Regions from separate parts of the Homo sapiens genome. Here all the other regions are linked to region 2. The links come from fine-mapping of genetic effects on gene expression. A gene starts in region 2. Each other region holds a variant in brackets. All regions are shown on one strand. Distances are between the middles of the regions.

Region 1 (4,812 bases), 36 kb after region 2:
CTGACCTGTGCCACATTCTTGTGTCAGGACCCCACCTCCCGCTGCGTTTTCTTCAACATATGAGAGTCTAGATGGGCACAGCATTTAGAGGAGCTGCCCTATTCTGGTGTCCTGGGGAGAGAGACGTGCTTGTGACCCCGGCTGTGCAGGAGCCCTGAACCTTTCTGGGAGCACCAGCTGCGGGGGCCATGGTGGGAGCTCACTTGGGTGATTGGCTCATTCAGGTCTCCTCCCTCCTTGCTGCTGCCTCTGGAGGGTCTGCTGGCCGGGCTGGACATGAGCTCTTTGTAGCCAGTGTGGACTGGACCCATTTGGCCCTAAGTAACTGAATTGTGTACCAGTCAGCAGTAGGGATGCATAACACCAGAGCTTCATTGATTCAAAGGCAAAGCAGGTGGCATTTTACTGAACAATTAAATGTTTGAAGTAACCTTTTATAGAGTGAGAAAGATGTCTGTCTAGTTTTAAGTCTTTCTGAAGAGAAATGGGCTGGAATGTTTGGTTGGTTGCAGCTATTCTTGTGTTCTTTTTAAAATATCTGAAATTATACTTAGATATGGGGCAGGCTTTATTCCTACCCAAGTAGCAGCGATCAGCGATGCTGGTGCTAACCCCTGGTCTTTGTCTGTTTCCCTATTGCTGACCTCAGGCACCACACTGTAACTCGAGGCATCACCAAAGGCGTGAAGGAGGACTTTCGCCTGGCCATGGAGCGCCAGGTCTCCCGCTGTGGAGAGAATCTGATGGTGGTTCTGCACAGGTTCTGCATTAATGAGAAGATCTTGCTCCTTCAGACTCTGACCTGAGTGGAGACCTTTCCACCAGACACAGCTCGGGCCTGTGTAATTGTAGGAGAAGACACTCAGCAGTGATTGCCATGGCACAGAGCCGTGGTCATTGTTGCTGTTACAAAGAAGAAAACCATCTGAGTTCTAACTCCTTGGTTGCTTAAAAGTAGTTCCCAAGAGTCTGAGAAGCTATTTCTATTTTTAAGAGTCATTTTTTGTAATTTTTGTAAAACAAAAGTACCAATCTGTTTTGTAAATAAAAATCATCCTAAAATTTGAAGTTTTTAAAAATTTAATTCTTATGAGTTTTTGAACAGGGGTGCATTTTTCTTCTTTTCTAAGCATATAGCAAGGGGGAAAATCCAGCATAATTGAATTGAGTAATGAATTTTACTAATATAGATACTTACTTAAAAGACATATGTCTTCCATGACCTTAAGATTTTATTTTCCATAGTTAGGCTTTGGTCGGTATTGCATATCAACATAATATTAGACGTTTTCATTCAGGTGATCTCTTTTTTAGAAACAAGGTCTCACTCTACACCCAGGTTAGAGTGCAGTGGCACGATCATAACTCACTGCAGCCTCAAACTCCTGGCCTCAAGCAATCCTCCTGCCTCCAACCTCCCAAGTAGCTGGGACTACAAGTATACACCACCATGCTCAGCTATTTTTTTTTAATTTTATGTAGAGACAGGGTCTCACTATGTTACTCAGGTGGGTCTCAAACATCTGGCCTCCAGCAATCCCACCTCAGCCTCCCAAAGTGTTGGTATAACAGGCATGAGCCACCATACCTGGCCTCATTCGGGAAGTTTTAACACCAAAAACATTTATGTAAAAATGAATTTGAGCCTGACCTCTCCCACTGATGGTCCCCTGAAGGAGAGGTGCTCAGGGCTGCTGAAAAGCCCAGGACAGGAAGTGGAGGTGAGAGGCAAGGTGTGGCAGAGCAGCCTCCCCATTGCTGTCTGGCTCCAGGAAGTCCCTGCTGCTGTGCCAGGGTGGCCCAGTGGTTTCTACCCAGGGGCTTTGGAGCCAGGTGGCCTTGTGTGGCTTTGCATCCTGGCTTTGCCCTGCCCTTACTTGCTATGTGACCGTGGACAAGGTAACTTCTGTGTGCCTCAAGCTCTTTGTCTGAAAACGGAGCTGAGTGGTCCTCCCCT[T/C]GCTGGTTATTGGGAGGATGAAATGTTGCTCCACGTGAAATGCTTGGGAGAGGGCCTTGAGTGTAGTTAGTGCTGGCCAACATTAGCTATTAGGCTAATTTTTTTTTTTAATTAGGCTAATTTTATTTTCCTTTTGCTCTTCATGAAATTATACAGAAGACAAACATCAATAAAATTTGTTTCAAGGGAGTATTTAAGAATGAAAGAGCTAAGAAGTTTTGCAGTTACTCTGCATAAAAGGTCTTAGAAATCTTTTCTAAATAAAGATCCTTTTTATAGCTATATTAAAATCAATAAGATGGTTTAAATAAGAGACATCTGATCTCAAAAATATCAACTAGCTTGTTTTGCAGTGTTTATTAGTGTAATATGAGTTTATTACAAATATATAAGCTATCCTTTTTTTAGTGATGGGATGTGCTGCCACCTAAAAGCTCCCAAATTAAACACTCTCACCTTTAGGTTTTCTAACACTATTAGGGTTCTTCAGAGGGACCGAACTATTGGATAGATGTATATATGAAAGGGAGTTTGTTAAGGAGAATTAGCTGACATGATCAGAAGGTGAAGCTCCACAGCAGGCCGTCTGCGAGCCAAGGAAGAAGGAAGCCCACAGTGGCTCAGTCCAAGTCCAAAAGCCTCAAAAGCAGGGAGGCCAACAGTGCATCCTTCAGTCTGTGGCCAAAGGCCCGAGAGCCCATGACCAACCACTGGTGTAAGTCCAAGAGTCCAAAGGCCAAAGAACCTGGAGTCTGATGTCCAAAGGCAGGAAGCATCCAGCACGGGAGAAAGATGAAAGCCAGAAGACTCAGCAAGTCAGCTTATCCCACCTTCCGCCTACTTTGTTCTACCCTCGCTGGTGTCTACCCAGCTTGAGGGTGGGTCTTTCTCTCCCGATCCATTGACTCAAATGTTAATCTCCTCTGGCAAAAGCCTCACAGACACACCCAGAAACAATACCAGCTATCTAGGCATCCTTCAATGCAATCAAGTTGACACCTAATATTAACCATCACGAACAGCTTCCTCAGCTCAGTGTTTCAGGAGCAGTGCACATCACAACAAGACTTTCTAATACCCCAAAATGTAGGTACTAGCTAAAAGAGGATTAACCATCTTTTTTAAAATTCAGTGGTGCCACTTCTCTGTGAAGAGGCTGCAGGGAAAGGGCCACAGAATAAAATGGAAACTCAGACTGAATTTGCAGAAAAAGAAGGAGCTGGGAGAAAACTGCAGACCTCTCAGCACATAATGGCTCCATCCAAATCGCTGCACTAAGAGACCTGACCAAACTCTAGCTTGGCTACCAGCAGCTTAAGGCCATGACCCCAGTCCCGCTTAAAATGCCTGCCTGAGAAAGCTCCATGCTACCAAAATTTATTCCAGACCAAACCAGGTGATAGGCAGATAGGCCCCTGGACTCTCGCTTAGAATAGTTACTTTAAAAAGGTTGCAATTACACATCCTTTGCCCTTTGAGATGCAAAGTGACCCCCCAGAGCTGTTTTCTCAAGAACCCAAGAGCTGGCTTTTTGAAATCCATTCAGGGAATCAACTCTTGCTCCCAGTCCCTGTGACAGGGAACATTTGAGCTGGGTTTGGACCACTGTAACATTTAGACTCCTACAGGAGATGTACTGTTGCCATGGCAATCCTGCTCCCTAACAAAGGAACTGCAGGCTCAGGCTTTTGGTGTCTGCTTGTCTGAGTAACGAATGAGGCAAAGCTACCATCGGGATGACCTTAAGGCAGGCAGAAGATACAGCGGTGCATAGGAGGCTTGACTGACCTTGGATATCTCGTCCCAGACATTCCCCTCACCTGGCAGCGGGGTGCACCCTGCGTGCACAGCATCCTCCTCCTACGCTTAGGTCCATCTGGATGTAGAGTCCCTCCTGGGAAAAGGGGAACTGCCAGAAAGAGACACCTGCCCCTCACTCGTCACCAAATGCAGGTTCCTGGGGAAAATGATGCTAGTAAGACCTGCCTCTGGGTTTCCTAAGCAGCAGAACAGCTCCCTCGCTGCAATCCATTGAAAGTCAGTCCTGGACACCAGGGTTTGTCCACCCATATGGAGGCTCCAAGCATCTATGCATCCATCCCTCTCGATCCCTAGGACTTCGGACCCGGAGCCACACTGTGGGGCGGCAGTGATCAGGTACCCTCCTGGCAACCCGACTCAATGCCCCGCCTCCTCGCCACCCTGCCAGGATGCACCCTGGGCTGGGACAAAGTTGGGGAGCGGTGGGGATAGCAGAGATGGATGGGTAGCCCCCTGCATCCTCAGGGTTGACCAGCAGTCTGCCAGGCTCGGTCTCTCTTCTGCAGTCCATCAACCTCCAAAGACTCACATCGATAGGCCCCTGCCTGCCTTAGGCCAGGGGTCCCCATTAGACTGTAGCCAAGGGACAGCCCATTGAGACAGTGGACTAGCTCAAGGCCTCGAGCTGCTGGGTCGAGACCAGTTGTCCGGCTGCCACCTTAGACGAGAGGCTAGGGCCAACCTAGAGAGGGGCCCACGGGGACCCAGACTGGCAGCGGGGGTAAAACAGAGAATCATTCCTCAGGTGGGGTGGGGCCCAAGGTTTATGGGAAAAATGTTATTGTTATTAGAAATATTTATCTGTAAATATGAAATCACAGAAATTGTAATACAGTCTTCTATAACATTAAATATAAATTGTAGGGGTTATAAATGATAAATCCATGTGAAAAACAAATAAACGTGAACAGTTATTTTTATTTTTTTAGAGACAGGGTCTTGCTCTGTCACCCAGAGTAACAGTCACCCTGGAGTGCAGTGCCGCGACCATGGCTCATGGCAGCCTCCTGGGCTTAAGCGATCCTCCTGCCTCA
Region 2 (4,977 bases):
GAATAAGCCCAAAGGGTGGCAGATGCACTTAGGGGAAAATGTAGGTGTCAAGGGGATAGAGGCCCATGAAGGTAAAATCAGGGAGAAGGGAAAGGAGGAAATTATTAAAAAGAACCAAGGAGAGAGTTGAGGGCAGGGAAGTTAAGAGGTTATGTGAGGAAACTTGGAGTTTGAAGATTTTGAAGTGGAAGGGGAAAAGCAATGTAGAGTTTAATTCAGATCACTGAACTGAGCTCACGGAAATTGAAGCCGGGTGCTGGATGCAGGGCATTTTATGTGACTTAGAAGTTGTCAAGGGCCGGCGTGGTGGTTCACACCTGTAATCCCAGCACTTTGGAAGGCCGAGGTGGGTGGATCACGAGGTCAGCAGTTCAAGACCAGCGTGATCAACATGGTGAAACCCCGTCTCTACTGAAAATACAAAAAAAAAATTAGCTGGGCATGGTGGCTGGCGCCTGTAATCTCAGCGACTTGGGATGCTGAGGCAGTAGAATCACTCGAAACCGGAAGGCAGAGGTTGCAGTGAGCTGAGATTGTGCCACTGCACTCTAGCCTGGACAATAAGAGCAAAACTCGTCTTTAAAAAAAAAAAAAAAAAAGTTGTCATGGAGAAGAACATGAGCTAGGCGCCTCAAGTCTCCAGTGAGTCAAGATCATGGCAAGGAGGCCAAAAGATGTAAACTCACTTGGTGTGTTACCTCCCTTCTGTACTTTGAGATGCCAGCATAACACTGTAGGAGAAATGTTTAGCTGGGGACCATTCAAAATCAAGAAGCTGACTAGAAAATAACCACAAACCTTACGTTGTATTCTGGCAAAAAGTCTAGAGGCCCTCTCAAGGTTGGCATCTAAAATACATACAGAGGCTGGGCGCAATGGCTCATGCCTGTAATCCGAGCACTTTGGGAGGCTGAAGCAGGAGGATCACTTGAGCCCAGGAGTTCAAGAACTGCCTGAGCAACATAGGGAGACTGTGTCTCTACAAAAAAATTTAAAATTAGCCAGATGTGGTGGCACACACCTGTAGTCCCAGCTACTCCACAGGCTGAGACAGGAGGATGGCTTGAGCCTGGGAGGTCAAGGCTGCAGTGATCCATGATCGAGCTGCTGCACTCACTGGCAGTCTGGATTTCAGAGCAAGACTGTGTCTCAAAAACAAACAAACAAACAAAAACAGAATTTCCTTATTTAGCCTCTAAATTTAAAATCTTAATTTACAATTGTTATTCCACAGAACACTAGGCTCAGGAACAAGTGTGGAGTTGTTTTTTTATTTTTGGTAAAGACCAAAACCAGAAAGTTTAATGACCAAATCAGTCATTTTTACCATTTGAAAATTCTTACACTTCATATATTAACATCAATGAAATAATTTTAACAATTCAAGCTAGCAATCTGCTTTTATGCTGTACACTTTATAACATAAAAATTATCCTACTCCGTTTAAATCCAATTTTCTACCATCTTCTATTCTACAAACCCAAAATAACTGTATCACTGAGTAATCCTGGCCCATAAAGTAATCATACAGTTATGCTGTTCTGTGCATAAGTAGGAGATATTAAACAGTGCTTCGAAGCCCAGCACGGTGGCTCATGCCTGTAATTTCAGCACTTTTGGGAGGCGAAGGAGGGCGGATCACCTGGGGTCGGGAGTTCCAGACCAGCCTGGCCAACATGGTGAAACCCCGTCTCTACTAAAAATACAAAAATTGGCCGGGCTAGCGCGTCGTGGTGGACGCCTGTAATCCCAGCCACTCGAGAGGCTGAGGCAAGAGAATCTCTTAGATGGAGAATCTCCTAGATGTTTTTCATCTCTTAGATGGAAAACAAATCTGGAGTTTTGGTGAAAAGGACATTGATTGTGGCTGGAGGAGATAATTATAATAATAGCGTAGTTATCTTTCTGTGGGTTTCACGTCCAGAACATTTAAAACATATAAAACCCTTGCTGGGTCAGGGTTTTAGTCATCTTTGCAGCTCCCACGGACGGCATCCACCAAAGCGCTTTCCAAGTACTTCGTTGCTCAATAAACGTTTGTTGGAGAAACCGGTGCATAAAGGTGAAATAATAAAACGTGGACGGATTTCGGAAAGAGAAGGAACCCCGGAGCTCACGCTTTGCACGATCACCCCCACCAGCCCCAGGAGTTTTCGCGTAAATCGAAGCCCGGGGAGTGAGTCGCAGGCAGCGGCCCCCGGGGAAGGTGTTTCAGGCCGGCCCGGGTGGAGAGTGCTTCCCGCCGCCTCCCCGACCCTCTGCTGTTCCTCTCAAACTTCTTCTCAACCTTCCACGCCGGGGGGACGCCCAGGGACCGCCCATTCCCCGGGACCGCCCGTCTCCCCGCCCCCGCCTCCGCCCCCGCCCCCGACAAACTGAGCAATACCCAGAGAGGATGGAAATGGCGAAGAGGCCTGGCGCCTGCCCGCTCCCGCGCATGCTCCCTGACTTCACCAAGGTCACGCTGCAGCCCGCAGGAATGAAAATCCACTTCTCCGCATTTTCGAGGTGACCTGGAAGCGGTTCAACTGCTCTGGCTTCTCAGAAGAGGAGGGGACCGGGCGGTAACGAGGAGCCAAGGGGAGGAGACTGCTCGCAAAACCCGGAAAAGCTTTCCCGATCCACTCTGCCAGCCTCCGTGCGCCTCCAGACATGCGCAGTAGCCTCCCCCGCGGTGGCGGCGGCGGCGGCGGTGGCTGCCGTGGCGGCTGAGAGTCCAGAGCCGGACGTTCCGGCCGCTTCGGGCTGGCGGCTGGAGAGCGCTCGGGTCATGTCTGCCCAGGGGGACTGCGAGTTCCTGGTGCAGCGAGCCCGGGAGTTGGTGCCGCAAGACCTGTGGGCAGCCAAGGCGTGGCTGATCACGGCCCGCAGCCTCTACCCGGCAGACTTTAACATCCAGGTGAGGTCCCGGCTGTGCATGCGGCCGCTCTGCGTGGAGGTGCGCGCTCCCGTCGCCCGGGCTGCCCTGGCCCAGAGCTGCGCCTGCCTGGGGGCTGCCGCCTCCTGCCCGGCCCCCTGCTTTCTCCCCTCCCACCCCCTCCTCTCTCCCCTCCCATCCTACACCTTGCTCCTACACCTTTCACCCGCCTTGCTCCTACACCTTCCAGGAGCCCTCTCCCCAGCACTTGAGAGACGGCCGATCCCGCTTGAGGTCGGGTGTGCTTAGGTCCCTGGGGCTCAGCGTGCCATCTGGCCTAGACAGCACATGATCGCCACTAGCAAAAGGCCATTCGCTCCTTCATTCATCATAATGGCAGCAGTTTGTTCAGGGCCTGCGACTTTGGAAATATTATCCTACTTAATCCTGGGAGCCTGAGATTGCAGGTGAACCCCAGGGTCACACTCTAAGCCCAATGGCAAGTCTGCCATGTATGTGGCGCTGTGTCACCAGGCGGAGCTTCACTCTCAGGCCCTCCCTTCCTGCAGGAGGGCCAACGAGCGATGCTGGATGAGCTGGGAGCCTTCTGGGCAGGGGTGAGTGACCAGGGTGCCTGATGTGTGTTGCAGTATGAGATGTACACCATCGAGCGGAATGCAGAGCGGACCGCCACCGCCGGGAGGCTGCTGTACGACATGTGAGTGGGACGCTTGACATCACTTTTACTGCACTGAATCTCTCCATGAGGTTTTGTTTCTCTCTGCAGAAGTGGGAGTTGGGGGAAGATCTTCAAGTTCATCTATATCTTCGATACCTAAAGCAAACCTAGTAAGGAGTCCAGGCCTGCCATAAATTGCTGACATGGCTTTTGCAGAAGAGTTTAATTATTATTCTTATGTTTTATCCTTGTTAAAACTTCTGTTTCATAATTTATTCTAGAAATAATATGTGCTCATTACAAAAATTCAAACACTACTTGTTATAGAGAACAAAAAGTGAAAGTGCATCCTAAACTGAACCAGAGTTAAGTTTTGTAGGCAGTATATCTATACATGTATGCATAATACATAAATAAGGTTTTGGGGGGAAGGGGTTACAAAAGTGAGAAGACCATACTACCTTTGCCCTGCAGCATGTTTCCTTTACTCACTCTCATGGACCCCTTCCCATATCAGTATGTAGAGATCCACTTCATTCCTTTTCATGCCTGTGTAGTATTTCGTAGACACTCTCTTCTTGGTAGACATTTAAATAGATAGTTTTAAATTATTTGAAATTATATTCAGTGTGTCAACAATTTTGTAGTCATATTTTGGTGTTTTTCTGTGGAATAGATTCTAAGACATTTTCATAGTCAAAGTTTATGCGCATTTGAAAATTTGATACGCTATGAAATTACTCTCCAAAATGTGCGATCCCAGTCTACATTACCACCAATGGTGTATAAAGAGTGTGTTTTCCCATACCCTTCCCAACACTGGATATTATTAGTCTCTTTTTAGTTCTTGTCACTGTGATAGGAGAAAATGGTATCTTGCTATTTTAAAAAAAAATTTGTACTACTCATACTGTTAATAAGATTCAGTATTGTTTCAACTGTTCTCTTTGGCTGTGTGTATTCTGTGATTTGCCTTTGCCTATTTTTTCTTTCAAATAGTTTGTTTTATTCTTGTTGACTTTTAGAAGCTCTTTCTATGTTATGGTTACTTGTCTTTTCACCTATAAAACCCACTAAAGACTTATGTGAGTACTCTCATTTTTATAAATCAAGTAATTCTTATTTTTACATTTTTATTTTGGTTTGTTTTGGCACGTCTAAGCATTCACTTGGAATAAAGGAAACTTTTTCACCAAATGCTAACGTTTTTTCTTTTGGATACTGTATAGACTTTGACATTTTAATTTAATGTATTTATTTTAAAAATAGGTTTGTGAATTTCCCAGACCAGCCGGTGGTGTGGAGAGAAATCAGCATTATTACATCAGCATTAAGGAACGATTCACAGGACAAACAAACCCAATTTTTAAGAAGTAAGAATAATGGTGTATAAGTTACCATTTCGGGAATACCAAATCATATATAGTAATTTCACACACAA
Region 3 (4,688 bases), 62 kb before region 2:
GCAGGGAGACACCATGGCCTTTGCTAGCTGGGGGTTTGAGGATAAGCCAAACTCTTGCAGTTCTGGGGAAGCATTAGTCTGTGCAAATGGGATCTCTATAACCTTTTCATGTGCGCAGAATCCTAAAAGTAATCCAAAACATTTAGCTTAATCAGAGGGAAATGATATTTAAAATGTTCTACAACCTTCATCCAAAAGTTATTCCTCTTACCCTGTTCTCCTAAGATTACTGACCTAGACCTTGATTTTTTAAAAAAAACCAGATTGTCTTACCGTAAAATCCTGCCATGTAAATATCAGAATTGGATGTCTGATAATTTTCCAAACTCAGAGACATTCTGCTAGATAAGACAGGAAAACCACTGGTAAGATTTAAGACCTACAATGGGCTAAACTTTTCTCTGTTGCTAGTTTTTGTTGTGGTTTCGTTGGGTTTTGTCCATTTGCTTCTGAGACAAGGTCTTGAGATATTGCCTAGCGTGGTTTTGATATATTGAGTGCTTCAGAAATCCTACTACCTCAGCCTCCCAAGTAGCTGGGACCACCACACCTGGGTCTAACTGTTTCTAATTTTACTTACAGATTAAAGGTATTTAGTTTGTCACTCGAATTAAGTTTCATGGAAAACCTGAAAATATAATGTTCTCATTCATTTACATACAATATGGCAATATTTTCAGTAATAATGTTTGTTTATATACATTGTCAGTAATTTTTCTACCAAATAGCAAATTATTTCTGGCAAATAAAAACACAAACAAATAAAAACACCTTGGAGTTGTTCAATAAATATTCTCAAGCTCGACTAACTTCATTCACATTAGAATTTAGAAATAAGAAGTCTTCTCAAAAACACATAGAAGAAAGGTGACTTTCAGTGATGCATCTTGGAATGTGATAAAACACTTTTTAAAGGTGAGATTCAATGTGGCTCCATTTTCTTTTTTCAGTCTCGCTCTGTTGCCCAGGCTGGAGGGCAGTGGCCTGATCTCAGCTCAATGCAACCTCCGCCTCCCTGGTTCAGGCGATTCTCCTGCCTCAGCCTCCCGGGTAGCTAGGATTACAGGCATGTGCCACCATGCCCAGCTAATTTTTGTATTTTTAGTAGAGGTGGGGTTTCGCCCTGTTGGCCAGGCTGGTCTCAAACTCCTTACCTCAAGGTATCTGCCTGCCTCAGCCTCCCAAAGCGCTGGGATTATAGATGTGAGACATTTTTTAAAAAGGACAGATAACCAGAAGCTTCTGCTAGCCAGATAAAATTCCTTGAAAAACAACTTTTTTGCTGTTAATGATACAAATATCTATTTAGGAAATAAAACCATTTTAAACACATTAAAAGATAAAAATAAGCTGTACCAAAGACATACAAAGAAAACCACTGAAATACCTAGATGAAAACCATATACATATATATTTTCAAAGTTTAAAAAAGCATATATTTGGAAATTAGGATATATAAAATACAAATCCAAATTCTTACATCTCTTTTAAGCCCTTAACTCTAAAATTATTAAAAACAGTACCAAATCCATCATTTAAGACCACTTTAATTTATTTTTAGGCCTTTGGCTAATGCTTTTGACACAAGGTTGCCCTTTTCTAATAAAGTATTCCATGTCGTGAACCCAGGAAGTTAAATTTCTTTGCTACCTTAAAGGACAGGATAATGGTAATAAATGACAGCCTGGGGTGATACACTATGCTGAAGAGGTCCCCTAGTGGCGAAGCTCCTCTCCAACCCGGCTTTATAGGTTTTATAAGACTGCTTCATCATGAATGCAAAATCAATAGGTAATAAAGTCTACCCTAGCTTTGCCTCTGTAATAACCTCTATTAGCCCTAATATATAGTAGGGCTAACATTTAGAATCTCAAGGTCCTTTCATCAGGAATTATTAAAAGAAGGATGTGATCCAAAGAATAACTTCATTACATTCTGTATTTTAAATCAACAAATATTTATTTAGTCCTTATGCCCTGCCAGGCACTGTGTTAGACATGGAGGAAAGAGGAAAGATGAGGACCCTTGCAGACCTTACTGATATTTCTTTTTAATGTAATAACATGGCATTAAGAACAGAGCTAGAGCAACATGAAGATTGGTAAGTATCATTCATCATCATATGAACTTAGGATGGATTCTTAGGAAGATACAAGAAAAAGCTGAAGTATTGCCCCAAAGTTTCAACTCCTTATTTTCAACACCTATACTGGGCAGTATCTGAGATTCTCCAATAAATAATCAATAGATAAATGAATAGAAAGTAGG[G/A]TTACAAAGAAGAAGGAATTTTTACAATTTTTTTTAAATGTTGAAACATGCTGGAGTTGGGGATCCCTAAATGTAAAGAAAGACAAAAAAAAAAAAAAAAAAAAAAAAAGACAACATTTATGAAGTGCATACTGTGTGCTCGGGGCACTAGGATAAGTTCCCAAATGTAATTTCCTCCTGCTAAACATCTCTATAAGGTGAGGAATACTATTGGCATTTTACAAATTAGGACACCAAGGCTAGGAAAGGGGAAGTAACTTGCCCAAGGTCATGCAATTAATAAGTGGAAGAAGCCGCCTGGAGCTCAGGTCTCTGGAACAGCAAAGACACAAGCTCACTGCACTGTAATGTAAACGGATGAATCCAAATGTCGGAGATTCTGCTTTAAAACCCACTAATACATTTTACAAATAGACATATAAGATTTAGCACACAAAGATGAACAGGATTAAAGTATTTTGATATTGTATTATGTGGAGTACATATGGTGTGGCAGCTCAAGGCAGACGAATTATTAAATATGTACGGTGATCTTACAATGGGTATGGCCCGTCTCTTGCTTTCTAGGAATTGACCATCTTCCGGCAGCCCAACACCTAGTCCCCTGTGTATTATGCACTATTACAAAACGTGTTCAAGTCGCCTTTTATGCCTAAGGCTTACATAAAAATTCATCTTGCCTTTCTGCGTCTATTTCCAAGTTTGAAGGACCTTTCTCCCTCCAATTAGCAACATTTCAGCACTGCACAGGGCTTATTAATGCTCACTGTTGCAAGTAACACCAAGGTAATTTGACTTTCTTGTAGGAACAATGTCGACGAAATCCTACAGAATTAAATTTAAATTTCCAGTTTAAAAAAAAAAACCGTGAAAGAACACTTCATTACCTTTATTATCTAGACGTATCTAATGACGTTAAGTAAAAACTGCACCAAGGCTTTGAAACCAGAAGAAAAGTGGAGTTTGTGAAATTTAACCACTCCATGCTTTTTATTAGTATTTCACTTATGAGTATTTCCCGAGGCTCACTGTTTTGGCAGGCACAGTGCTGTTAACATCTCTTCCTTTCTCACCATTCTTTGCTCATCGATGAAAAGATAACTTCAAAATCTCTGACAGGAATGCAGGTGCAGGAAGTGCGACGGAAACAAACAACTTTGCCTCCGCTTCCTACAGCTTTCCTCTCCTCCCCGCCCTTCTAGCCCCCATCCCACCCCAAGATCATGCCCTCGAACAGCTTCTGCCCACCGATCGCACGTCCCCTGGGCATGTTCGGGCAGCGGTGACCCTCAGCCACATCCCCCACTAGCCCGGTCCCGGGCAGGCGAGCGCGCTGCCCACCGGCCACCCTCGTCACGCCCCCTCCACCCTCTCCATCCCAGCCACAATAATACAATAACCGCAGTCATCGCGCGGCACGTGGAAAGGCTACTTTTCAGTGGGTTTTGCAGAAAGCAATCAGACAGCGGAAGGCCACGAGAAACGCTGGTGAAGCCAAACCGACCCCGGGAGCGCAGCGGCCCCGGACCCTCCCTGGAAGCTCCCTCCGCGTCCCCGCGCGCCCACCTGGAGGCGCCGCGCCCTCCGCCTGCCAAGCCGGTCCCCGGCCCCTGCCCGTGCCCTGGGCCCCCGGCGGGCAGCGGCGGAGGGAGGCCAGGCGCGGCACCGTCCTCCGCAGCTGCACGAGCCACCCCGAGGTCGCGGGGTGGGCGGGCGCGAGCTAGGCGCGCGGGGCTGTGGGGATCTGCCGGCGCCACTGACGCCCCCGCGCGGCACACCGCGCCCGGCTGGCCCGGGAGGGGACCCGACTCACCCGAAGCGCCCTGCTAGCTGCCCGGCCCGGCTCCGGCCGCTGCCGCCGTCGCTGAACTTTCCCTCCTGCGCGGCCGCCGCGGACTCGGCTCCACCTCCCGCTCCGGCAGCCGCGGAGCCTCCAGGGACCCCGGGGGCGGGGAGCAGCGGCGGCGGCGGCGGCTCGGGCGGGCGGGCGCAACAGCGGCCAAGCCTGGCGCCCCGCCGCAGGGTAGGTCCGGCGGGGGCGGCCAAGGCCGGGCTGGGGTCGCGGTTGGCCGCGTACCTCCGCGTCACCCACGGCCTCTCTGCAGTGCGTCCCTGCGCCCGTCGGAGCGGCGCCCTGGCCGAAGCCTGTCACTCTCGGAAGGGGCCGCGCTCGGACACCAGGGGCGGTTTACGCGTGACTGGACACCAAGAGCCGGAGAAGTTTAGAGACTAGGACACTGTGGCGTGGCCCGAGTTGCAGGAGAGAGGTGTCCAATCTCCATGGGGTCCTTACTCTTGCAGGACAGAGTTCCCCATCCCCCTGCTCCACCCGCTCTGTTCCCTTGGCTGCCCTCCCCGCCGAGCGCCGACTTCCATGCAAAAACTTTGTAAATCGCACTTCGGGGAATTCACGCTTTAGT
Region 4 (4,000 bases), 28 kb after region 2:
AAGCATCTTAAACAGTTGCCTTTCAAAGCTGTTATCTTTGATAATAACATACATTAACCTAACATTGTGGACTTCTGTTAGGTTCGGATCTGAAGCTCCTGCCTTGTACCAGCAAGGCTATCATGCCATACTGCCTCCATTTAATGTTAGCCTGTTTTAAGGTAAGCTTAAAGTTGATTAGCTTGAAAAAAAATGTAATTTCAAATATTATTCTCATGACTCGAGAACTTGAGAACCTTGCTAAGGATTGTTATTTTAGTACTTTTGAGGGCAGGCCCAAACAGTTAGAAAAGCACATGGGCTACTAATTAACAAATCTATATTAAATAATGACTGCGCTAGGCAAAGAGAAGTAGGAAGTTCTCCCCGTCCTCAAAAAGTGTAATAGTGGGACAGATATGCAAATAACCTTGACTGTTGTAGTGTTTGGTAAATATTTTATCAATATAAATATATTAGCTACAAAGAAAGGGAATACAAATTGCGGTTAGGTTCATGGAGGGATGATGAGTTTGTCATTGTAAAGATGTGCTAGATTAAGCATGTTAGGTGTTGAGATCAACACCAGTAACAGCCCAACAGTTGGGAAAGTTCCGGGACTTGAAAGAACGCCAAGGCCCTTGGCTACAGGTAGAGCAGAGCCTTAGAGCAGGGAGGCTTCATTGTTTCTGGAAGGTTTGTTGGCCAGAGAGTAAAACATTGGGTCTCCACTTCAGTGCAGTAACTCCCACTTAACTCATCATCCATATCACTTTTTTAGGGCAACAAAAACAATTTAAAGTGTGATTTTATGCATAACCGCTCATTTGAAACAAAAACTGTTTTGACCATTTCTTTAGTTCACACTTCTGCTTATTTCCTTGTGGCTCACCACCTTTCCTTCTCTGCAATCCCATGTTCTCTACAAACAGTTCTCTCCTGGATGGCCTCTTGCCCACCTACTCCCATCTGCTCCCTTTCAAAGAAATCTTCAGATTTATTTCTCCATTACACAGGATGAATCAGAGTTCTCTGCCCCTGATTCTCATATGCAAAAGCTTCAGGCCCACCCATGTCCAACTGCCATCTACACACTGCCAGCAGCTGTGCAGAGGGAGCCTGAGGCTTCTTTGGTTAGAATCCACCCTCCTTAGAAGGCAGCTGTGATGTTTACCAGCCATTTCGTTGTGCCTTTGTTTCCTTCTTACTCTAATGACGTTTATCACACATTTGCATATACAGCATATTTTTGGAAAGTGATGTTTGCTGTATTTCAGATTACCCTGTGACTTCCTTTTCCTTCTGTCTTGTATAAATCTTTGTCTTGCAGCTTAGAGCTTTCACAGACAACAGAGACGACATGGCATTGGGGCATGTGATTGTGTTGCTTCAGCAAGAGTGGCCACGGGGCGAGAATCTTTTCCTGAAAGCTGTCAATAAAATTTGCCAACAAGGAAATTTCCAATATGAGAATTTTTTCAATTACGTTACAAGTATCCTTTTTTCTTGTTTAAGCATAACACATTCTGATTTTCTTTAGAATGAATACATGATAGAAAAAGAATGAACCATTCTGGATAGAAATAATGATTTTTACTATTTTGCAGCGAAGAGAAGGAATGGGGATTAAAACTGGGGCTGTGGCAGTTGATCTTCTGAAAGTCGTGAAAGACATGATTCAAGGAATTGGGAATCTTACAACCCTCTTCCATTTTCCACTGCTAGGTGACTTCTAAGAAGGTAC[G/C]CAAAATGCCTCCAGTAATAGCCTACAGGTTGCTGATAGGTCCAGCTTGCCCGGTTTAGTCAAGGAATATAATACTAATAGTTCCTCTTCTTCCATCTGTCAAAAGAATGCCTCCTGTAGCCTCTGGGGACAGTGGCTGTGCCCTGCAATCACTTGTTAGGGCACCCTGCCATAGCTGTCTTACCTACCAATGAGTACCCACCAGAGATGCTGCACAGCACAGTAGCTGCTTCTGACATTAGGTAATGCTGTATTTCACACTGCTTATTAGGGAAAGACCTTTGAATTAAAGGTTAGTTATCAATTTGGGTGTTTTTACTTCATTGTTTATCTTATTACATTATTTCTGAATTGCAAGGAATATAAATGATATTCTTGTTCAGGTGCTCAGAGCAATAGTTTTTATTTTTATTTTGTTTTTTTTTAGAGTTGGGGTCTTGCTGTGTCACCCAGGCTGGAGTGTAGTGGTGTGATCATAGCTCACTGCAGTCTTAAACTCCTGGGCTCAAGAGACCCTCCTACCTCAGCCTTCTGAGTAGCTAGGACCACAGGTGTGCACTACCATACCAGGCCAAAGTAATAGTTTTTAACCATGGTTTGGGACAGATATCTTTTGAGAATCTAATGAAAGTTACATAATTTTTCACTAGAAAAATGCATACATGAATGTCATCGACATATTGCATAAAATTTGGGTGACTCACAGAAGCTTCCTCCTCTGATGCATCTATAAACCCTTGCACCCCAGTTATGAAGAAGTAATCACTTGATTTTTATGAATTTTATGTTCTGTAACACCAAAGAATCCTCCCTACTTTCACCTCCTCTTTCATTTCTTATTAAGAAAACAAAAAAATTTTGCTCTTGTGACCATGTAGTATTAATTATTATCGATATGGAAAACATGTTGTCCTCATGCTCTTTAGCCTGGCACATCTCATGCCAAGAGTTATCTGTGCGAGGGAGTTTAGTGGGTATAAGAATCAGGTTTTGGCATCAGACAGATCTGGGTTCAAATATGGAGTCTGCAGTTAGTGGGGTAGCAATGGGCAAGTTACTCAACTGCCAAGACCCCATTTCCTTATCAGAGAGAACTGGCACCTTTTTTAGTGGGATGGCAATGGGCAAGTTACTCAACTGCCGAGACCCCATTTCCTCATCAGAGAAAACTAGCACCTTTTTTTACATGTGGTTAACCTGAATCTGGCCTGCAGATATTGATATGCTGGAGGAATTTGCCTACTTGAGAACTCAGGAAGGTGGGAAAATTCATCTGGAATTACTACCCAATCAAGGAATGCTGATCAAGTAAGCATGTTCTCTTTTGCTCTTCCATGCTGAGTGCTCACCTTTTGTGTCTTTGTATGAAGTATTTGTAAATGTCTATACCTATCAAAAATTTAATACAAAGGACTTTAAACCTGGTCTCTGTTATGATAGTTTGATTCTGGGTACCTTTTGAAAAACTTGCATTTCCTTAACTACATTTCTTAAAACACTTTGCTTAAATTGGGGTATTTTTGTCACATTTGCAACTTTTTCACTAGACAAAAGTCTCATTCATGATATCTTTTACTTTCAAAAATTTATAGGGTGAGTCTATAAGTTTCTGATTAGTCACAGAGTGCCTTTAATTAAGAACAGTTGTGTGGCCAGGCATGGTGGCTCACGCCTGTAATCTCAACACTTTGGGAGGCCAAGGAGGACAGATCACCTAAGGCCAGGAATTCAGGACCAGCCTGGCCAACATGGTGAAACCCCGTCTCTACTAAAAATACAAAAAAAAAAAAAAAATTATGTGGGCATGATAGTGGGCACCTGTAATCCCAGCTACTTGGGAGGCTGAGGCAGGAGAACCGCTTGAACCCAGGAGGTGGAGGTTGCAGTGAGCCGAGGTCGCGCCATTACACTCCAGCCTGGGCAACAAGAGTGAAACTCCATCTCAAAAAAAAAAACAAACAAACAAAACAGCTGTGCTTAATTAAAATTGTGCTGGGTTAGAAAAATTCTTTAGGAAAAACTACAGACTTTTTATTTATAAACTACCTATGAAGCCCTCCTATGCAGTCCTCATGACTTACATAACAACGAAGTATTAATAGCCAGGTATAGTGCCTCTAAGAACACACCTGTCCCAAGAAATGATGGTGGGAGTGGTTGGTCTCCACCATGCTCCCCTGAACTCACAAGATGTTACTAAAATTCCGGGTTGGCCCAGATGAAAATGCCAAATTAGTGACCATTTATGATTTTTAAATAGCTCATAAATCTTGCTTC
Region 5 (4,985 bases), 48 kb before region 2:
GTCCCTGGTGCCAAGAAGATTGGGAACCGCTGCTCTAAGCCATAAATATATACTTGCCACAACCCTATAGAGAAACTGAGGCTTAAAGAGGTTATAGAACATTCCCAAGGTCATACAGCTAGTAAGCCATGACGTCAGGATTCAAACTCAGGCCAACCTTTCCCATGGACACAACTCTGGGGTTCCCATACCTTACAGTCTGAGATAAAAGAGGTAACTAATAATATTTTTCAAAACATCCTATTTACAGGGCAGAAATAATAAAAATAGGTTCTTGGTAGGAAAGAATAATAGGAGGAAAATAGGAGGAAACCACTGATCTCTAATATTTCCTCTAAGAACAAGATAAATTCAGAATTGGGATTTGCCCACCCAACTCCCAGTCCAGTGATCCTTTGCTGTGCTATGTGTGGTCAGAAGGGTGAGGAAGTATCACAATGGAAAGGCCAACAAGATGGCGATGAATGCATATACTCCTTCAGTCATTTGCTTCATTCTTTACTCATATCATACCATGTTTTGTACTCTCATTGGGGTGATAATTAGTGCCATCTGTGTACTCTCATTTTATTAAGCCAATAACTAGAGTCATATCAACAGTGTTCACAGAACTAAAATAAGGAAGCTCTTTGTGTGTTTGTTTCTTTTCCCTCTCACAGAACAGATACTTCTCCTTCCTACTTTTTTTTTCTTTTTTACTAGCATCTTGGAAGACAACCAGTCCCAGGACCTATAAACAGTGCTTCCCTTCAGACACAGCTTTTATCTTGATTGGGCAGAGAAAGACAGACTGTTCCCTTGCTGATAAAGGGCTTTTTGAAGACTTTTACATAACTTCTGCAATTCACTGGAAAATAACACCCAGGAAAAGGCTGGGTGTTGGGGGTGGATAATAAACTTTTACTGCTATATGAAAAGTTACATTTTTCAGAGTAATATGGTGATTACAGATAAAATAACAAAATAAATTTTAATAACACCACATTGCCGAGTCATCAAAGAATTGGGCACTGGTCCAGTAACTTCTGGGAGAATTTGCACCTGTTGCCTCTTTCCCCAAGGATGGAGGAGGTTGCCGAAACCACCTCCTCCTGGGAGGGCTACCTGAAGCTCCAGTAAGCAATAGCACTGGCTAGGTCATCGTCTCTTCCAGTTCTGCCACCAACGAACTCATTCCAAGAAAATGTGGGAAATAATGCCTTATCTTGAAGTAAGTCAGAAGCTGTCACACGTACAAAGAAAAATGTTTTCTGGTCAGGGTTCCCTGTGGGCATGTCCTTGCAGATGCCTTGATGCGGCTCTGAATTTCTAGTTACAATTAACTGGCAATGAACTGAAGCTATGCTAGTTTAGATTAGGGGTTTTGAAAAGTCTCCTTGTATAATAATAGCATACCTAGTCTTAGCTTTTAGGTTTTCTTTCTTCAAAGGGAACATTCAGAGCCAGATAGAGGCAGAGGTCTGCCAGGCAGCTTCTTAGAGCAACAATCTATAAGAGGAAACTATAAGGGGGAACTCACATAACGCTAAAATAAATTGGAAATACAGCCCCACTTATCCCGAGTAAAATGTAATTGTCTCACTACTCTTGAAACAGGCATTTCGGAGTTGGAAGACAAACACCACCCCACCACACACACACACACACACATGCACGCACACAGTCACACACATACACACACACACACTCTGTTGAATATTTTGGCAATGTATACATGCTAAATAGTAATTTGCTGCCTTCAACTGAAATTCTAAAACCAAATAATACATGGCATAATACTTACAGAAGTGAGTGAATCTTTTATTATCCAAAATGTTAAACCCTTTAATATACCTCCCAAGGTGTTGTCTGGTTCAGAAACTCACAAAAGGAAATGGAAGGGCAAACTAGAACTGCTGAAAAAGTGGAAAACAAATTTAAACAAATTCATCATCAGCCAATGAAGTAAATTAAGTGACTCTAACTCTAGGTAATGTTCATTACTACAAAATACTTTCCCACTCCTACTAAATAAATGTTAAGTAATTACTTAAATGATATAAATTATGTTACATTACTAGCTTGCTTGGAGTGCTCACATGAAAGTCTTAATTACTCATACTTTCTCACCACCACAAAAGAAAGAAAGAAATAAGTTGCGGGGGTGT[G/A]GGGGTTAAGAAAGGAGGAAGAAAGAAAAGGACGGAGGGAGACAGGGAAGAAAATAATTGATTTCTGCCATTTTGGAAAACAGAGTGGTAGTTTCTTAAAAAGTTAAACACGTATCAGCCGGGAGCAGTGGCTCACGCCTGTAATCCCAGCACTTTGGGAGGCCAAGACGGGCAGATCACCTGAGGTCAAGAGTCTGAGACCAGCCTGGCCAACACGGCAAAACTACGTCTCTATTAAAAATACAAAAATTATCCGGGCTTGGTGGCAGGCGCCTATAATACCAGCTACTCAGGAGGCCGAGGCAGGAAGAATCCCTTGAACCTGGGGGAGGTGGAGGTTGCAGTGAGCCGAGATTGCACCAGTGGACTCCAGCCTGGGTGACAGAGTGAGACTCTGTCTCAAAAAAAAAAAAAAAAAAAAAAAGTTAAACACATATCAGCCATATGATCCAGCCATTCTACTCCCAGATATTTATCTAAGAGAAAGGGAAATACATTTCAATATAAAAATCTAAACACAAATGTTCATTGTGAGGTAAGAGGAAGGACTTGACTCAGGAGGTAGGACTTGACTACAGAGATAGGGCTTGGACACTGGACTGAGTTGAGGACTAGCTAAAACACAGAATGAGGCAGAAGCAGCTTTCCATTAGACACACCCACTACTGTGTTATGTCAGTTTACCACTGTCATGGCAACACCTGGAAGTTACCACTCCCTTCCATGGCAACAATCCAATGGCCCAGAAGTTACCACCCATTTTCTAAAGATTGCTGCATAATGCATCCTTCAATTTGCATGTCATTAAAAGTGGGTATAAATGTCAGTGCAGACCTGCCTCTGGGCTGCTACTCTGGTCACACTGCCTATGGGGTATCCCTGCTCCACAAGGAGCTGTACATTTGCCACTGCTGTACACTGCCATTTCAATAAAAGTTGCTGTCTAACACCACTGCCTTACTCACTCTTGAATACTTTCCTGGGTGAAGCCAAGAACACTCCTGCGCTAAGCCCCAGTGTTGGGATTTGCCTGCCCTGCATCATGAGCAGTATTATCTGTAACAGGCAAAAACTGTAAACAACCCAAATGTCCTTAGCAGGTAAATAAAGAAATTGTGGCATATAATAAAATGGGATACTGCTCAATCAGAAAATGGAATTAACTACTCAGACGCTCACCAACGAGGATAGGTCTCAAAATCATTATGCTGAGAAAAATAAACATACCAAAAAAGTCACATATTGTATGATTTCATTTATACAAAATTCTAAAAAATGCAAACTAACATAGCGACAGAAAGGAGATCAGTGGTTACTTGGGTATGGGGTATGTAAGAAGGCGTGGAAGGAAAGAATTACCAAGGGGTACTGGAAAACTTTTAGGGGGGATGGATATATTCACAATCTTGATTGTGGTGATGGTTTCACGGGGGTATACATATGTCGAAGCTTAGCAACTTGCGTATGCTAAAGTGTGCCAATTTTTTGTATGTTAATTATACCTCTCTACAACTACTTTAAAATTAATTTTTAAATTTAAAAAACAGGCCTCTGCATTTGAAAGAACATGTTCTCTATCTTGCTTTCAGTAAAAATCAGGAAGAACCTTTGGAGACTAAATTAAGTGATCCTGATTTTTTTGTTCAATGACTAAAACAGTGGTTCTCCAAATTTAGTATGCATGAGTGTATCTGAGATGCTAATTTGAAATGCAGTTTCCAGGGTTTTATATAGAGGTATGCTAGAAAATATTACTGATAAGAGAATGTGTAGGACCTAATTTACAAGTAATAATACATCCAATATTCTTTATTGTAAATGTAATAAATCTTACAAAATGCTTTTGTTGGCTTTTGCTAAACTCTTGTATCTGCAGTCAGCCTATGGCTGCAAGAGATGAACAAGTATAGTTCCAATTGAATGTTGGGTAATAATTTTGTTTACTCAGATGAAAGGATTACTTGAGGCCAGGAGTTCAAGATCAGCCTAAGCAACGTAGCGAGGCCCTGTCTCTAAAAAACTTTTTTTTTAAATTTCTCCAGGCACCATGGAATATACTTGTAGTCCCAGCTACTCAGGAGGCTGAGGCAGCAGGAGTGCTACAGTCCAGGAGCTTGAGAATACTAAGTTCATACTGCTGCACTCTAGCCTGGATGACAGAGCAAGACCTTGTCTCTTAAATCATAATAATAATTTTGTTTACATTAATGAGTAAAAATGAAGCATCATTTCTTAATCTCACATGACTTATTAATGATGTGAGAGACTTCTTTGATGAACTGGAAGATAGTTTTTGAAGACTGGGACAATAATTTCCTTAAGTTTATACTATTTATCATGTAACAACCACAGGCATGACACACTTTAAGTTTAATCTACATTATTAACATTTATTCCATCATTGTCTACATAACCAACAAAACAATAAATCAAGCCTGGTTGTATTTGACAAATGCCATGGTGTAAATATTCCCACATGGCCAATTTCAAGCTACCAGTGCATGTGAAGTTGGGAAGAGATGTACAGTAGCACACCAGTATCAGTATCTCCACCACACAGAAGTAATAGACATAACCTCAAAAGCACAGATAATAGCAACGTGTAGTAAAGTCAATAGGAAGTGATGAGTTTTGTATACTTATTATGCTTGTTTTTAACATAATTTATGTAACTGTGAGCTTCTACAATTTAATTTGTAATGATTTTTAGTAATGAGCTCATAAAATTCTTGAAATTTAATAGTTGGCTCTCAGGAACTGAAATAAGTTGGCTCTAACACACTGCTGGCTTCAGCTCAGCCCTAAGAAATGAGGTCCTTTGGGGATGGGGCTCAGGAA
Region 6 (4,985 bases), 200 kb after region 2:
TGTGCAGATGGAGGCAGAAATTAGAGAAAGTCCACAATCCAAGGAACACCAAGGATTGCCAGGTACCACTAGACACTTAGAGAGAGGCATGGAATTCTCCCTCCGAACCAATCCTACCGTCACCCTGATTTTGGATTTCTGGCTCCTAGAACTGTGAGAAAACAAATGGACTTGTTCTAAGCGGTATGAGTAATTTGTATAGTAATTCGTTATGCAGCCCTGGGAAACTAACATGTCCCCTAACTGGGCTTCCTTCCTCTGCCCTTGTCTCCCACAGTTGTCAGAGTGATCCTTCTGGAACCCAAGTCAGATCGCGCCGCTGCTCTGCTCAAAGTCGGTCAGCAGCTCACATCTCACTTGAAGCAAAAGCCAGGGTCTTTTCAAGGACCTTCAAAGCCCTTGGCACTGGGGAGGGACAATCTGGCCCTAGCTATCTTTCCAGGCACGTCTCTTAACCAACCTTCCCATCTCCCTCAGAACAGTAAGTTCTAGCCACACAGGAATGTCCCTGGTACATGGGTCCCACCTGCCGAGAATGCTTTTCTCCTCCAGATACTCCTCCTGCCTTATTTCCTTACAAATCTCTGCCCAAATATCACTGTATCAGTGGAGACCTCCTTGGGTCACTCTTCTCTCTCCATGCCCTTACTCTGCACCTGACATCATATATACATATAGATCAACACAAGTATAGATATGGCCAGAGATATAAAGCGTCTCCCAGTAGAACGCATTCTCCCTGAGGATAAGAATTTTAGTTTTTTAATTTTTATTTTAATTTTTTTGAGACAGGGTCTTGCTCTGTTGCCCAGGTTGGAGTGCAGTGGTGTAATCACAGCTCACTGCAGCCTCGACCTTCCTGGGCTCAGGTAAGGCATAAGGATTTTATTTCGTTTGCTGCTGCATTCCCATTAGCTATCTCTGAAATGCCATATCCTAGAGTTTTTGCCTATTTTTGAGCACATTACAGATTACTTTGCATTAAGGATATCTCTTATTATATGTCTTATGTCTCCTACAGGATTGAAAGCTTCTTGAAGATTGGAACTCTGTTTCAGTCATACCTGTTTCAGCCTTTCTCTCTGTCTAGCCTAAGACAGTACTTTGCAGATAGTCAATGTTCAAGACGTACTAATTGTTTGGACCATGACCTAGCCTTTTTAGGTATCAATCTGCACAAACTGAACTTTAAATTTCTTATTTTCTTAAAATGTTTAAGAATGAACTCACCTAAAGGATCTTGGACTTTTATAAGTATATCTTAGGAAGAAAGCAATCCTATAAAAAGATTGTAATCCAAACTGTTTGTTCAGTGAGAAATGTTCTTTTTTTTGACATTTATTAAATGTCAACAACACATCTAGTATATGGCATATTAAAAGCTGCTTCTTAAAAAAAATGCTAGGGACCATATATTGAAAGCACTGTAAACACTCATTAATTTCGACTCCCCCATTTTGAGATTTTGCTACTTCCAACAGGGAGGGAAAGGAGCTTGGGCTGAGATATCTGATCTAAATATACACATAAAATATTTGCTTATATTTTAACTAATATCCTGGGAAGTTGTTTAAACCACTTAAGTAGCCCTTTAAGAAACTGTTTCTTTTTTTTTTTTTTTTTTGAGACAGAGCCTTGCTCTGTTGCCTAGGCTGGAGTGCAGAGGCGTGATCTCGGCTCACTGCAATCTCTGCCTCCCAGGTTCAAGCGATTCTTGTTCCTCAGCCTCCTGAGTAGCTGGGGTTACAGGCGCATGCCACCGCACCCGGCTAATCTTTGTATTTTTAATAGAGATGGGATTTCGCCATGTTAGGCAGGTTGGTCTTGAACTCCTGACCTCAAGTGATCCACCCACCTCGGCCTCCCAAAGTGCTGGGATTACAGGTGTGAGCCACTCTGCCCAGCCAAAGACAATTGTTTCTTATTACCATACTTATAACTTCTTCAGATCAGGTTTCTAAAAATGAACTGATAAGAGAATTTAAGGCATTCCTGTTTATTCACTAATATAAGTTCCAAAACATTTCTTGAAAGTAGGATTCTCACCCATGAAAAGCAGAGGTGCCAGCAAGGCAGAGACTTGATCAGGTCATGGGCTGTCAGAATGATCTGCCCGAGGAGAAATCTGCAATGGGCATAAAGAGTCTGTAAAAGTTAGTCCTGGAACTTCAAAGTTAAAATGAACTTCATTCCAACAACCTCCACTCAATCTGTAGGAGTTTAAAATGCAATATAGAAGAAGAGTCACAGATAGGATTCACTTAACTACTTTTTTTCCTCTTCTTAACTTAAAATGACTATAATTTGATTTAATTTTCTTTGAGAAGAAACCACCCCCCAAAATTGTTC[T/C]CTTGGCTTTTGTTTCTGTGTTTACATAAGCAGAGAGATAACAGATAGAAAACAACACTGAGCTAGAAACAAGGGGAACTGATCCCAGACTTCTCCCTAACTTGCGTGCTCTTAGACGAGTCACTTTCCCTGGGCCCCAGTTTCCTCATTTGTAAAATTAGGGGTTTGGAATACTTGATTTCTCCAACAGTTCTAATGCTCTGAGATCTACATAGTTATATATAGTATTGTTGTGAAAATCTGACTTCTTATCAAATGTGAGTTCTTGGAAGTTTTGCCTTTTAGACTTAAGTCTTCATTATCATCTTCAAAATTTGTAAGATTAATCTCTGTATCTATGATCAAATATTCTCAAGAAGGCATTGTTCATCTAAAGACCTGAGATTTATAGGTAAAACAACTCAAAATAAATAAGAAGTTACCCAATGCCACCTTTAAATGTTTTTTTATTTATTTTTTTCTTGTACAATATTTATCTTAGCATTTTTTTAATTTTGTTTTTCTTTTGAGATGGACTCTCACTCCTTCACCCAGGCCAGAGCACAGTGGCACCATCATGGCTCACTGCAGCCTCAAACTCCCGGGCTCAAGTGAGCCTTAGTCACCTTAGCCTGTGAGTAGTTAGGACCACAGGTGTGCCACCACCATGACCAGGTACATTTTTTATTTTTTGTAGAGACAGGGGTCTCACTATGTTACCCAGGCTGGTCTTGAACTCCTGGGCTTAAGTGATCCTCCTGCCTCAGCCCTGCAAAGTGCTGGGATTATAGGCAGGAGCCACCACGCTTGGCCAAAAGTGATTTTAAACAGAAAAAGCCATCTCTTGGGCATCTCATTGAATTCTACTGAAATCGTATTAAAAGTTTTATTTAAAACATCTATAAATCTGTCAACAAAGAGGGGGAAAAAAGAGAGGAGAGAGAAAGACAGAGGAAGGGAAAGAGGGAATTTTAACTTTGAGCCCTGTGCTCATAGAAAGCGTCAGTGATTAAGAAATCGTGTTATGTTCTAAGAAACAATTAGCCACAAAGGCCCACCCTTCTCTGTGTATTCCCCAGGGTCCGTCCTCATGACTCCCCTAAAACTGCTAACGACTTTGTTTTCCAGCCTCTATAAAACTCCAGTTCCCTTCATTTCCTTTCCTCATTAATAACTGTTCTTCCTATGGCAATAACTTGAATAAAATCTCCCTAATTGCCTGGTAGATATTATCTTTGGCCATATATAGCTAACAGCATGTGCTGCGTGCTCTGATGAAATCATACCTGGTGCTACATTAATTAGGTGAACAAGGAAGGCCTCAGTGAGGAGGTGACATTTATACTAAGACCTAAATAACAGGAGGGAGTGAGCCATGGACTGAGCAAGAGGAAAAGCCTTCCAGGTGGGGATTGGGGGCGACCCGCGCAAATATTCTAATGCACGAATAGCTTGGTGTTCCGCAGAAGTCTAGAGCATAGTGAGCTGGGGAGTGGAGTGGGTTAGGGCACAGTCCAGTGGTAGCAGAGGAGGTTAGGAAAGAGAGATAACAGAGGAATGATCATGAAAGCCTTGCCGCACATGGTGAGAAAACTGGATCTTATTTAAAGCGCAACAGGGCCAGGTGCTGTGTCTCACGCCTGTAATCCCAGCACTTTGGGAGGCCAAGGCAGGTGGATCACCTGAGGTCAGGAGTTCGACACCAGCCTGGCCAACATGGTGAAACCCCATCTCTACTAAAAAAAAAAAAAAAATACAAAAATGAGCCAGGCATGGTGGTAGGCACCTGTAATCCCACCTACTTGGTAGGCTGAGGCAGGAGAATTGCTTGAACCCAGGAGGTGGAGGTTGCAGTGAGCCAAGATAGGCCACTGCACTGCAGCCTGGGTGACAGAACTAGACTCTGTCTCAAAATAATAATAAAATAAAATAAAGAAAAAGTAAAGTGCATTGGGAAGCACTAGAAGCATTTAAACAGAGGAACGACATGATTTGACGTCTTTTAAAAAGATGATTTTTGGCCACACATGGTGGCCCATGCCTGTAATCTCAGCAATTTGCGAGGCCAAAGCAGGAAGATGGCTTGAGGTCAGGAGTTCAAGACTAGCCTGGGCAGCATAGCGAGACGCTTTCTCTAAAAAAAATTTCAAAAATTAGCCAGGTGTGATGGTGCAGGCCTGCAGTCCCAGCTACTTGGGAAGCTGAGGTGGAGGATTGCTCGAATCCAGGAGTTTGAGGGTGCAGTGAGCAGTGGTTACACCACTGCACACTGCACTCCACCCTGGGTAATAGAGCAAGACTTCAACTATATAAGAAAAAAAAAGATGATTTTAGATGGCCAAGAGTGAGAGTAGGAAGCTTGTAGGCCACTGCAGCTATCCAGGTGCAATGGTGTGAATGTTTGTGTCCCTCCAAATTCATATGCTGAAACCTAATCACCAAGGTGATAGTATTAGAAGGTAGGACCTTTGGGAGGTGATCAGGTCATGGGGGGTAGAGTCTTCATGAATGGGATTAGTGCCCTTATGAAAGAGGCCCCAGAGAAACACCTTACTGCTTCCAGCATAAGAAGATGCAGCAAGAAGCCACCTTCTGTGAACCAGAAAGTGGGCCCTTACTAGACGCCAACTCTGCCAGCACCTTGATCATGGACTTCT

Direction of the effects. Positions count from the first base shown, and alleles are read on the strand shown. Sizes are in standard deviations (SD) of each study's normalised expression. Not every link is listed here.
In carriers of allele G in region 4, the expression in unexposed skin of the gene that starts at base 2,649 in region 2 tends to be higher than with C alone (small effect, 0.25 SD a copy in GTEx).
As copies of A replace G in region 5, the expression in testis of the gene that starts at base 2,649 in region 2 goes up (small effect, 0.23 SD a copy in GTEx).

The links. PIP is the estimated chance that this variant, and not a neighbour inherited with it, causes the effect.
Region 1: its variant is fine-mapped to the expression of INTS10 in blood mononuclear cells (TOPMed, PIP above 0.99). The same link has a PIP of 0.9 or more in monocytes after R848 and whole blood.
Region 3: its variant is fine-mapped to the expression of INTS10 in whole blood (INTERVAL, PIP above 0.99).
Region 4: its variant is fine-mapped to the expression of INTS10 in unexposed skin (GTEx, PIP above 0.99). The same link has a PIP of 0.9 or more in NK cells, Th17 cells, Th2 cells, esophagus mucosa, ileum and memory regulatory T cells.
Region 5: its variant is fine-mapped to the expression of INTS10 in testis (GTEx, PIP above 0.99).
Region 6: its variant is fine-mapped to the expression of INTS10 in whole blood (INTERVAL, PIP 0.98).

The regions. Positions count from the first base shown.
Region 1 is chr8:19,851,000-19,855,811 of GRCh38, forward strand. It overlaps INTS10 (integrator complex subunit 10), which reads left to right. Exons shown (of 17, transcript NM_018142.4): 17 at 650-1,068. The coding sequence ends at 806. It overlaps LOC124901901 (a long non-coding RNA gene), which reads left to right and starts at 2,898. Exons shown (of 2, transcript XR_007060843.1): 1 at 2,898-4,114. The variant T/C (reference allele first, on the strand shown) is at 1,958.
Region 2 is chr8:19,814,768-19,819,744 of GRCh38, forward strand. It overlaps INTS10 (integrator complex subunit 10), which reads left to right and starts at 2,649. Exons shown (of 17, transcript NM_018142.4): 1 at 2,649-2,899; 2 at 3,508-3,575; 3 at 4,806-4,909. The coding sequence starts at 2,771. RefSeq lists silencers at 2,230-2,369, 2,890-3,019 and enhancers at 2,520-2,599, 2,640-2,699, 3,200-3,289, 3,500-3,589.
Region 3 is chr8:19,753,105-19,757,792 of GRCh38, forward strand. It overlaps CSGALNACT1 (chondroitin sulfate N-acetylgalactosaminyltransferase 1), which reads right to left and starts at 4,173. Exons shown (of 9, transcript NM_001354483.2): 1 at 4,082-4,173. The variant G/A (reference allele first, on the strand shown) is at 2,269.
Region 4 is chr8:19,842,767-19,846,766 of GRCh38, forward strand. It overlaps INTS10 (integrator complex subunit 10), which reads left to right. Exons shown (of 17, transcript NM_018142.4): 14 at 82-161; 15 at 1,310-1,472; 16 at 2,938-3,031. Among named protein-coding and RNA genes, the nearest start is that of INTS10, 27 kb to the left of the region's middle. RefSeq lists an enhancer at 1,163-1,262. The variant G/C (reference allele first, on the strand shown) is at 1,724.
Region 5 is chr8:19,766,877-19,771,861 of GRCh38, forward strand. All of the region lies in intron 2 of LOC107986920 (a long non-coding RNA gene), which reads right to left. Among named protein-coding and RNA genes, the nearest start is that of CSGALNACT1, 12 kb to the left of the region's middle. The variant G/A (reference allele first, on the strand shown) is at 2,148.
Region 6 is chr8:20,014,149-20,019,133 of GRCh38, forward strand. No RefSeq gene overlaps it. Among named protein-coding and RNA genes, the nearest start is that of LPL, 77 kb to the left of the region's middle. The variant T/C (reference allele first, on the strand shown) is at 2,350.